Regions from separate parts of the Homo sapiens genome. Here all the other regions are reported to be linked to region 3. Evidence: microRNA targets listed by miRTarBase, many of them from high-throughput screens and not tested one by one. Region 3 holds a microRNA gene; each other region holds the end of a gene's coding sequence.
Evidence for each region. The annotated mature microRNA hsa-miR-455-3p reads GCAGUCCAUGGGCAUAUACAC and lies in region 3 at 1,037-1,057, opposite strand. An mRNA with a match to its seed (bases 2 to 7 or 8) in the 3' UTR can be bound and repressed. Matches are read on the target gene's strand: a 7mer-m8 pairs with bases 2 to 8, a 7mer-A1 pairs with bases 2 to 7 and ends in A, and an 8mer does both.

Region 1 (3,254 bases), not on the chromosome of region 3:
CTTCAGTGAGGTCCCCGACAGAGCCCCCGACAGCAGGCCCGAGGAAGCCCTGGATTCCTCCCGGCAGCTCCAGGCCGACATCTTGGCCGCCACCCAGAACCTCAAGTCCCCCACCAGGGCTGCACTGGGCGGTGGGGACGGAGCCAGGATGGTGGAGGGCAGGGGCGCAGAGGAAGAGGAGAAGGGCAGCCAGGAGGGGGACCAGGAAGTCCAGGGACATGGGGTCCCAGTGGAGACACCAGAGGCGCAGGAGGAGCCGTGCTCAGGGGTCCTTGAGGGGGCTGTGGTGGCCGGTGAGGGCCAAGGGGAGCTGGAAGGGTCTCTCTTGTTAGCCCAGGAAGCCCAGGGACCAGTGGGTCCCCCCGAAAGCCCCTGTGCTTGCAGCAGTGTCCACCCCAGTGTCTAACAGTCCTCCCGGGCTGCCAGCCCTGACTGTCGGGCCCCCAAGTGGTCACCTCCCCGTGTATGAAAAGGCCTTCAGCCCTGACTGCTTCCTGACACTCCCTCCTTGGCCTCCCTGTGGTGCCAATCCCAGCATGTGCTGATTCTACAGCAGGCAGAAATGCTGGTCCCCGGTGCCCCGGAGGAATCTTACCAAGTGCCATCATCCTTCACCTCAGCAGCCCCAAAGGGCTACATCCTACAGCACAGCTCCCCTGACAAAGTGAGGGAGGGCACGTGTCCCTGTGACAGCCAGGATAAAACATCCCTCAAGGCTGGGTGTGGAGGCTCACACCTGTAATCTCAGCATTTTGGGAGGCCAAGTGCGGACATCACTTGAGACCAGGAGTTCCAAACCAGCCCTGGCAACATTGTGAGACCCATCTCTATAAAAACAAAAAACAGTCCACTAAATCAGCCACATTAATTGGGAATCATATGTCACAGGTCATTTGTGGGGCAAACATCACTGCTTTTCCATCAAGGGAGCAAAGAATAAGTGGGAGTTTTGGAAGAGTTTGGATGAGAGACGCCAAGGTGCCCAGCGTTCGTAAGGCAACATGCAGCCTGGCGTGAAGCAGTATTTTGAAACTGCAAATGGTTCCCTTCTTGTGTCCTTTCAATGCTGAATATTTTAGTGTCATTCTGCCTGTGCTCAGAGCTCCAGCAGCAGAAGTGTGTGTGGTTAATTAGGACACTTCTGTGAGAGGACCCCTGCACACATTACGACAGGTCCCTAAATGAGCATTTCCCAAACTAGGTTCCCCGAGGCACTCTACGGAAACAAGATTTTTTTTTTTGAGACGGAGTCTCGGTCTGTCACCCAGGCTGGAGTGCAGTGGTGCAATCTTGGTGCAATCTTGGCTCAGTGCAATCCGCCTCCCAGGTTCAAGCGATTCTCCCGCCTCAGTAGCTGGGATTACAGGTGCCCACCACTGCGCCCAGCTAAATTTTGTATTTTTAGTAGAGATGGGGCTTCACCATGTTGGCCAGGCTGGTCTGGAACTCCTGACCTTCAGGTGATCCACCTGCCTCTGCCTCCCAAAGTGCTGGGATTACAGGCGTGAGCCACCGTGCCCGGCCCAAACTACTTTTTAAAACAGCTACAGGGTAAAATCCTGCAGCACCCACTCTGGAAAATACTGCTCTTAATTTTCCTGAAGGTGGCCCCCTGTTTCTAGTTGGTCCAGGATTAGGGATGTGGGGTATAGGGCATTTAAATCCTCTCAAGCGCTCTCCAAGCACCCCCGGCCTGGGGGTGAGTTTCTCATCCCGCTACTGCTGCTGGGATCAGGTTGAATGAATGGAACTCTTCCTGTCTGGCCTCCAAAGCAGCCTAGAAGCTGAGGGGCTGTGTTTGAGGGGACCTCCACCCTGGGGAAGTCCGAGGGGCTGGGGAAGGGTTTCTGACGCCCAGCCTGGAGCAGGGGGGCCCTGGCCACCCCCTGTTGCTCACACATTGTCTGGCAGCCTGTGTCCACAATATTCGTCAGTCCTCGACAGGGAGCCTGGGCTCCGTCCTGCTTTAGGGAGGCTCTGGCAGGAGGTCCTCTCCCCCATCCCTCCATCTGGGGCTCCCCCAACCTCTGCACAGCTCTCCAGGTGCTGAGATATAATGCACCAGCACAATAAACCTTTATTCCGGCCTGAAGTCTCACCAGTTTTCTGGGGGGTGGGGGAAATGAGCCTGCTGGGGAGGGGCTCTTGCATGGGGATGGGGACAACTTTCTGGGGAGACACATCAGCCCAGTCCTGGAGGGTGAAGGGACAGATTGATGTGGGAAACAAAGGAAAGACCGGTGCTCCCGAGGAATGGGCTGGAACTCATGTCCCCAGGGGTGGAGCACCAGCTCTGGACTTGTGGCCACGCAGACCCAGGTTCCATGCCCAGCTCTGCCACTGTGGCCATGGGAGAGTCACTCACCTCTCTGTTTCCCCTGCAGGTGGTTGAGGACTGGGACGGGTCTCATGGACAATGCCCCCCTCACTGCACCCTTGGCCGGGATCGGGAGTAGGAGGCAGCCCTGGCCCTGCAGTCGGCCTCTGCCTTCTGTCTCCCCACCCACAAAACTCCTCTTGGTCTTTGATGGCAAGTTCCTGCAGCGACTTCTCCCCCGCACCCTGGGCCTCAGGAGCTGCCAGCTGGAATCCAGATGTGGCTGGGGCTGGGAGCATGTGCTGGGTCCCTGGGGCTGGGGGGCAGTGGGCCATCCCCTGCAGCCCCTCCCCTCCACCGACCCCACCTCCAGCCGGAGGGGGCCCCAGAGTTTTGGGTTTCATAACACACAATAGCCTCTGTCTCACTCAGTGGGGAAGGGCCCTCCCTTTCTCAGCCCAGCCAGGCCTGCCAAGAACAGCAGGAGGGTGGAAGAGTAATACCTGTGTGTGCTGCGTGGCTCTGACCAAATCGACCAAATCATTCAACTTCGCTGGGTGTCACGGGCTGTGCTTTCTTCTTGTTCCCAAGCTCCTGCGGGGTGTTAGTTGTTGTGACGTGACTGGGAAGTGCATGAAGCTTCCCTTGAATACATAAAAATCTAGTAAAACAGAAGCAATCATTAGAGACCCTGGGGGTGCAGACGGGGGTGAGCTCCCTGATCAGCGGCTCCAGTCTGCAGTCTTCCACTAATGCTCAGCGGGACCCTCCAGAGGACATGGAGTCCATGACCTCAGCCATAGCCTGTGACCCCCAAGACTGGTGGGGGATGAATGAAGGAGGTGTTCCGAGCAACAGAGCAGTTCACCTCTTCCTCACCTCTGAGCTTTTACAGCTGCTGTTCCTTCTGCCTATGACACCTTTCCACCCCTCCCAA
Region 2 (3,234 bases), not on the chromosome of region 3:
CACGAAGAGATAATGGATGCCAAACCAGAGCTGCTTGCTTTCCAGCGACCCACAATCCCACGGAACCCAAAAGGTTTTGGCTATGTAACTTTTATGCATCTGGAAGCCCTAAGACAAAGAACTTTCATTAAGGATGACACATTATTAGTGCGCTGTGAGGTCTCCACCCGCTTTGACATGGGTAGCCTTCGGAGGGAGGGTTTTCAGCCACGAAGTACTGATGCAGGGGTATAGCTTGCCCTCACTTGCTCAAAAACAACTACCTGGAGAAAACAGTGCCTTTCCTTGCCCTGTTCTCAATAACATGCAAACAAACAAGCCACGGGAAATATGTAATATCTACTAGTGAGTGTTGTTAGAGAGGTCACTTACTATTTCTTCCTGTTACAAATGATCTGAGGCAGTTTTTTCCTGGGAATCCACACGTTCCATGCTTTTTCAGAAATGTTAGGCCTGAAGTGCCTGTGGCATGTTGCAGCAGCTATTTTGCCAGTTAGTATACCTCTTTGTTGTACTTTCTTGGGCTTTTGCTCTGGTGTATTTTATTGTCAGAAAGTCCAGACTCAAGAGTACTAAACTTTTAATAATAATGGATTTTCCTTAAAACTTCAGTCTTTTTGTAGTATTATATGTAATATATTAAAAGTGAAAATCACTACCGCCTTGTGCTAGTGCCCTCGAGAAGAGTTATTGCTCTAGAAAGTTGAGTTCTCATTTTTTTAACCTGTTATAGATTTCAGAGGATTTGAACCATAATCCTTGGAAAACTTAAGTTCTCATTCACCCCAGTTTTTCCTCCAGGTTGTTACTAAGGATATTCAGGGATGAGTTTAAACCCTAAATATAACCTTAATTATTTAGTGTAAACATGTCTGTTGAATAATACTTGTTTAAGTGTTCCTTCTGCCTTGCTTACTTATTTCCTTGAGGTTACGAAGTAGCATCTTCCCCAGAGTTTATAATGCTGAGAACCACGTGGATACCAACTGCTCATTGTTATGCTATGTAACCCTTTTTGTCTATTCAGTGCAGAGTGAATTTCACAGCTCTGCATATGTCTTCATTTGTTTAATGCTTACAAGACAGGAGATGCACACATACAATCAGCAACATAAAAATTAAAAGTGACCCAAGTAGTCAGCGCATGTGGCATCTCATTGGTGGTGACAGAAGCTATGTGAGCCAGAAGTTTTCAGCTCTTTTGAATACCCTCTGGTTTATTTCGATTAAAAAGAACAAAATTGATTTCCTAAAATCAGAATTTTTTAAAACTTGGGAGATGATTGGAGATACCTAGGAGGTCACCAAACTAGGATTAGAAGTCACAGTGGTTGTATCACAACTTAGCTTGAGTATGTTGCTGTAGCCTAACAACTGCAGGTTCTGAGAAGGATCCTGTAGAATCCTGGAAGTAACCAGATTTTCCTAATAGGGAGATGATTTTTTTGTGTGCCATCATGTATTTGTTAAAGGCCTATATATAGATATAAAATATCGTGGAATCTAGTTCTCAGGGAGACCCGCAACTAGTATAAGCTTATAAAGGATCTAAAGATCCATCCACCATTTAAAGTTGTCTGGTAATGAGAGATGACATTGTATCCCCCAGAGAGGCCAAATCAGAGTCGCCAGCCAGCGTTCTAGATCAGCCTTAATTTCAAGAGAAAGCCAAGGACCTCATCTGCAGGGGAGTGTGGTTTTCAGCCCCAGCGAGTGTCACTTTGAACTTTCCCTTTGCTTTTTTCTCTCTTCTCCCTCCCCACCCACCCTTAGGCTCCTGATCTGGTGAGTTTGTTATGGAGTGAAAATAAAAGTCAAGCAGAGACCTTGTTTCCCGTGCCACCATTAGTACCACAAGCTCATGGCTAGTTACCACATTACTTCCTGGCAGTTTGTGTCCCTCAGCTGTGCCTTCCAACCAGCGCCTGAGAATCACTGCATACCACCCTCTAGGTAGGGAAACCTACACTGCTGCTGTTCCTGTGATTATTTTACAATGAATAAATAATTGTCAAGTTCCATTTAAAAACTGAACAGTAGTATTTTTGTATTTGCGTAGAAAAAGCCTGAAGGAAATATACTAAACTTTTTGTTGGCTTATTTTCCTTTGCGCTTGCTTATATTTTTTACATTTTCTACAATAAATGTGTACTTTTATCGGAGAAAAAAATTAAATGTTGCCACAAAACATTTAATCTCCACGCCCCCAGCTCAAAAAAGGAAATGATATTTAAAAGCTTCCTGGTCAGATTTCTATTAAAAGCACTGGCTGTGCATTAGATACAAAGAGGAGTCATTTCCTGCCTTGGTGATACTATTTTTTTCTACTAACTCAAGAGTCTTTATTAAAAAAAAAAGTTGTTTTGCCTAATTTCAGCTTTTAGCAAGCTTCCCATCTGTAAAATGATTTGGACCAGATATTTCTAGAGTCCCCTCCAGCCATAACATTCTGTCTCAAATTAAGTTCCAACCAGCAGAACAATGACAATACTTAGGAAAGTATTTTGCCAGTATAAAATGTCTTTAACTTACTCTTTGCTGACACTGATACTTTCCTCTAATTTAGTGTCTATCAGCTGGGTCACATCTTAAGTAAAATGAGCAATTTTAACCCCCAACATTTGGCATTTTGTCATAAACCAGCCAGTTATTTTATGCTGGTCATTCATCTTGACTACAAAGTAGAATAGTCAAGCTGTCATTCCAAATAGAAAACTTTTTACTTCAATCAGAATTAAGCCTTAACCTGGAAAGTTGGTTTCTTCCTTACATTTTCCCAATCTCCTACTCTATTCTTAAACATGCTAGTTTCACTCAGTTGGGTATACAAGCCTTTGGGCTTTATGTTGTATGTTACTAACCACCTTTTACCATATTTATCTTTTGGCATCATTCTGGGACATTGCTAAATTAAAAAAGAAATTGTTTCCACTTTTTTCTGGAGATGTTCAACTAAAGGTTGTTTTGTTTTGTTTTTTGTTTTGAGACAGTCTCACCCTGACGCTCAGGCTGGAGTGCAGTGGTGCAACCTCGGCTCACTGCAACCTCCACCTCCCGGGCTCAAGCCATTCTCCTGCCTCAGCCTCCCAAGCAGCTGGGATTACAGGCACCCGCCACCACGCCCAGCTAATTTTTTTGTATTTTGAGTAGAGACCGGGTTTCACCATATTGGCCAGTCTCGTCTGGAACTCCTGACCTCAGATGATCCGCCCGCCTCAGCCTCCCAAAGTGCTG
Region 3 (3,254 bases):
ATACTTGGTCTGGAAGGACAGGGTGTCTTAGGAAATCTTAGCACCCACTGCCCACCACCAAACCAGTCCCACCACCTTCCCCAGACAGCCGCTCCCCCTGGCTGCTGGAACTCCTGCCACCTGCTCTTGCTGTCCCCACCCCCAACCAACACATTTTACTCAAGTAAACCAACTGATCTGTCTAAAAGAGGAATCAGCAGATGGTTTCTGGAAAGGGGCAGATAGTGAATATCTTTGGCTCTGTGGGCCATACGGTCTCTGTCACACCTACTCAACTCTGCCATTGTAGTGAGAAAGCGGCATTGACAATATGTAACCAAATGAGCAAGGCTGAGTTCAATAAAACTGTTTGCAAAAACAGACAACTGGCTGGATTTGGCCCATGGGCCACCGTTTGCAGACCCCTGATCTATATTATAAAGTGGGCCCGGTGTTCATTGGTTGCAAGTCCTCAAGAGGCTCCGCATACCCTCAGAACAGAGTTCCTTTTCTAACCTTAGTCCTGGGCACCTAAGACATTGCCCCAGGGTCCTCTCCAGCCTCAACTCCCACCACTCTCACCCTCTCACGCAGCACTTTGGCAGTGTTGAGTGTTAAACTCGCCAAGTTACCGTAAATCCCTGACTTCGCACATGCTGTTCCCTATGCCTGGAATGCATCTGCCTTGACTTGTCCCCTTATCAGACTCCTACTCGACTCAAGTGCACCTCCTCCAGGAGGAATTCCTTGACTTCCCCAGGCTGGTGCCTGGCAGGTTCTGCTCTGTTTGGGCAGGGGTGGCTGTGGATGGTGAATAACCAAAGAAGCAAACTTACTCGTTCTCCATCAGACCCTGGCAGGCCGAAGAGCCCTGGGAGCCCAATGTAGCCCTAGGAAAGAGAAGAAAGGGGGTCAGAGCGGTCAAGCAGTGAGGTGTGGCTGGCCCAACCTGCCGCAGCCCACCCACCACTGCCATCCCACATCCCGGCTCCTCCTCTTCCTCCCTGGTGGCAGTGGCAGCTCCGGTGGCTCCTCGATGACATAGGCCTTGAGGCAAGTGTATATGCCCATGGACTGCATGGTGCTGGCTTCCACGATGTAGTCCAAAGGCACATACCCTCACGCCAGGGAAGGGCGCAGGCGCTCGCCGGCAGGAGGCCCGCCCCACGCCAGGGCTCCAGGACCTGCAGAAGGAAGCTCGCGGCTGGGTTAGATGCTAGCACGGCACCAAGCCCTGCCCACCCCCAGGGATGCTGGTAGGTGCCCGTGGCTCCTGCCATGGCTCCTCCTAGGCCTTCAAGGTCCTGGATGTAGGGCTTACATCCACCTCTGGCCGCCTGAGTGCTGGCATTAACTAACAGCGGCTGCGAACCCGGAGTGCCAACATTGTGCCAGGCACATGCATGCTACCACATTAGACTCTCACAAGGACCCCCCAGATTGTCACCACCCACACTGGACAGACAAAGAAACTGAGGCTCTGTAGATAAAGCAACACGACTAGTCAGTAGTGGAGCTGTGAATTCTCTTCGGGAATTCCTAATCAGTTCAAGGGTCACCCAGGGCCAGCTGACTCCACAGCTGGGGCTCGTCACCATTCTGGGGCTCTTCCCTAGGATGCATCTCATTTCCTCCCTCCCAGCCTTTCCTCACTCTGTCCCCTCCACCAGGCATGTCCTTCCCATCCCTCATGACTTCTGAGCCAAATCCTTCAAAGCCCAGCTCTCATAAGCGCTCTCCTTGGGCAAGCATCCCTGATACCCCAAGCCGGAAGCAATCTCTCCCCCCCATCCCCAGTGCCATTTTTGCACCTCGGTAGCATCCTTCTCCACTTTCTCCCTTGTATCTTCATTATTTGTGTTCATGCTTCACGTCCTCATTAGCCTGGGAACTTCTAAAGGGCAGTAACCTCGCCCGGGGCTTCTACCACTATCTGCGTGCCACTCTTGGTGGAATGATTTAATAATAACTCTAACAAAAGCTAATGTTTATTGAGCACGAATGATAGGCCAGGCCTGCTGCCAGTGCTTTGCATATATTAAAGCATTTATTCCATCCTTATCACACCCCGAGGAAGTATTATATTTTATTATTTTTTTATTTATATATATTTTTTGAGACGGAGTCTTGCTCTGTCATCCAGGCTGGAGTGCAGTGGTGCGATCGTGGCTTACTGCAACCTCTGCTTACCGGGTTCAAGCGATTCTCCTGCCTCAGTCTCCTGAATAGCTGATCACAGGTGATCACAGGTGTGCACCACCACGCCCAGCTAATTTTTGTAGTTACTTTAGTAGAGACGGGGTTTCGCTATGTTGACCAGGCTGGTCTCGAACTCCTGGCCTCAGGTGATCCACCCGCCTTGGCCTCCCAAAATGCTGGGATTACAGGCACGAGCCACCGCGCCCAGCCCTGAGGAAGTATTATTACTCAGCCCCCTGTAGAGGTAAGACCATTTAGGCCCAGAGGGGTGAAGCAACTTGCCTAGGACCAAACAGCTGAAATGTGGTAGAACTGGTATTCAAATTCAAGTCTTCTGACTCCTGGGCCTGGGCTCCTAACCACTCTGCATACTGCCTCTCCTCAAACAAGCAACCAATGGAGGCTCACAACCATCTCTCCTTCCCTGGAAGGCCAAGAAGCCACTGAGCCTCCTCGTTGGCATCCAGCATGATTAATATCCATAATCTGAAAGAGTGCCATTTACTGCCATTCCAAATAGTGCTTATCTCCCAGATTTACAGGTGAGAAAATAATTGGCTCAGAGAGGCCCAGTGACTTGCCCAAGCTCCCACAGCTAGCTAATGGCAGGGCAGGTCTCAAAGCCTGTCATCCTGATTCCAAAGCCTGCCCTCTGCCTACTTCAGAAATATGAGGCTGGTGGTGGCAGGGTTGGAAGGGCAGCTTGAGTGACTCACTGCTCATCCAGGCTTCCCACCCAGGGCTGTGTGGCCTGTAAGAGACAGGAGTGCTGGGGCCAGACCAGTCCTCTCCTGCTATGTGACTTTGAGATGCCACCAGCCTGGCAGGCAAGTCGAGCAACCCCAGATGTCATTAACATGCCTGTCCTTCTGGCAGGTCAGGAGATCAGGACTGGGGCTGGACTGAGAAGACCTTTCTCCTTGGGTTTAGGGGGTCCCTCTGGGGGAATGGCCCATGGGAGCAGCAGAATAAAGGAAGAGAGGCACAGCACCCTGGGACAAGAGCCTCCTTAGGCCCTGCCTGTCACAGTAACCTCCTGGGGAATGCACCTCCCCGCCCCCACTCCCGCCTCCCCA

Region 1: miRTarBase lists TMEM119 as a target of hsa-miR-455-3p. The part of its 3' UTR that is shown has no 7-base or 8-base seed match.
Region 2: the mRNA of TRAF6 is a reported target of hsa-miR-455-3p. The part of its 3' UTR that is shown has no 7-base or 8-base seed match.

The regions. Positions count from the first base shown.
Region 1 is chr12:108,588,684-108,591,937 of GRCh38, reverse strand. It overlaps TMEM119 (transmembrane protein 119), which reads left to right. Exons shown (of 2, transcript NM_181724.3): 2 at 1-2,087. The coding sequence ends at 406. Among named protein-coding and RNA genes, the nearest start is that of TMEM119, 7.8 kb to the left of the region's middle. RefSeq lists an enhancer at 2,432-3,160.
Region 2 is chr11:36,486,838-36,490,071 of GRCh38, reverse strand. TRAF6 (TNF receptor associated factor 6) reads left to right here. Exons shown (of 7, transcript NM_004620.4): 7 at 1-3,234. The coding sequence ends at 234. Among named protein-coding and RNA genes, the nearest start is that of TRAF6, 22 kb to the left of the region's middle.
Region 3 is chr9:114,207,290-114,210,543 of GRCh38, reverse strand. MIR455 (microRNA 455) reads right to left here and starts at 1,110; the gene lies at 1,015-1,110. It overlaps COL27A1 (collagen type XXVII alpha 1 chain), which reads right to left. Exons shown (of 61, transcript NM_032888.4): 11 at 816-869.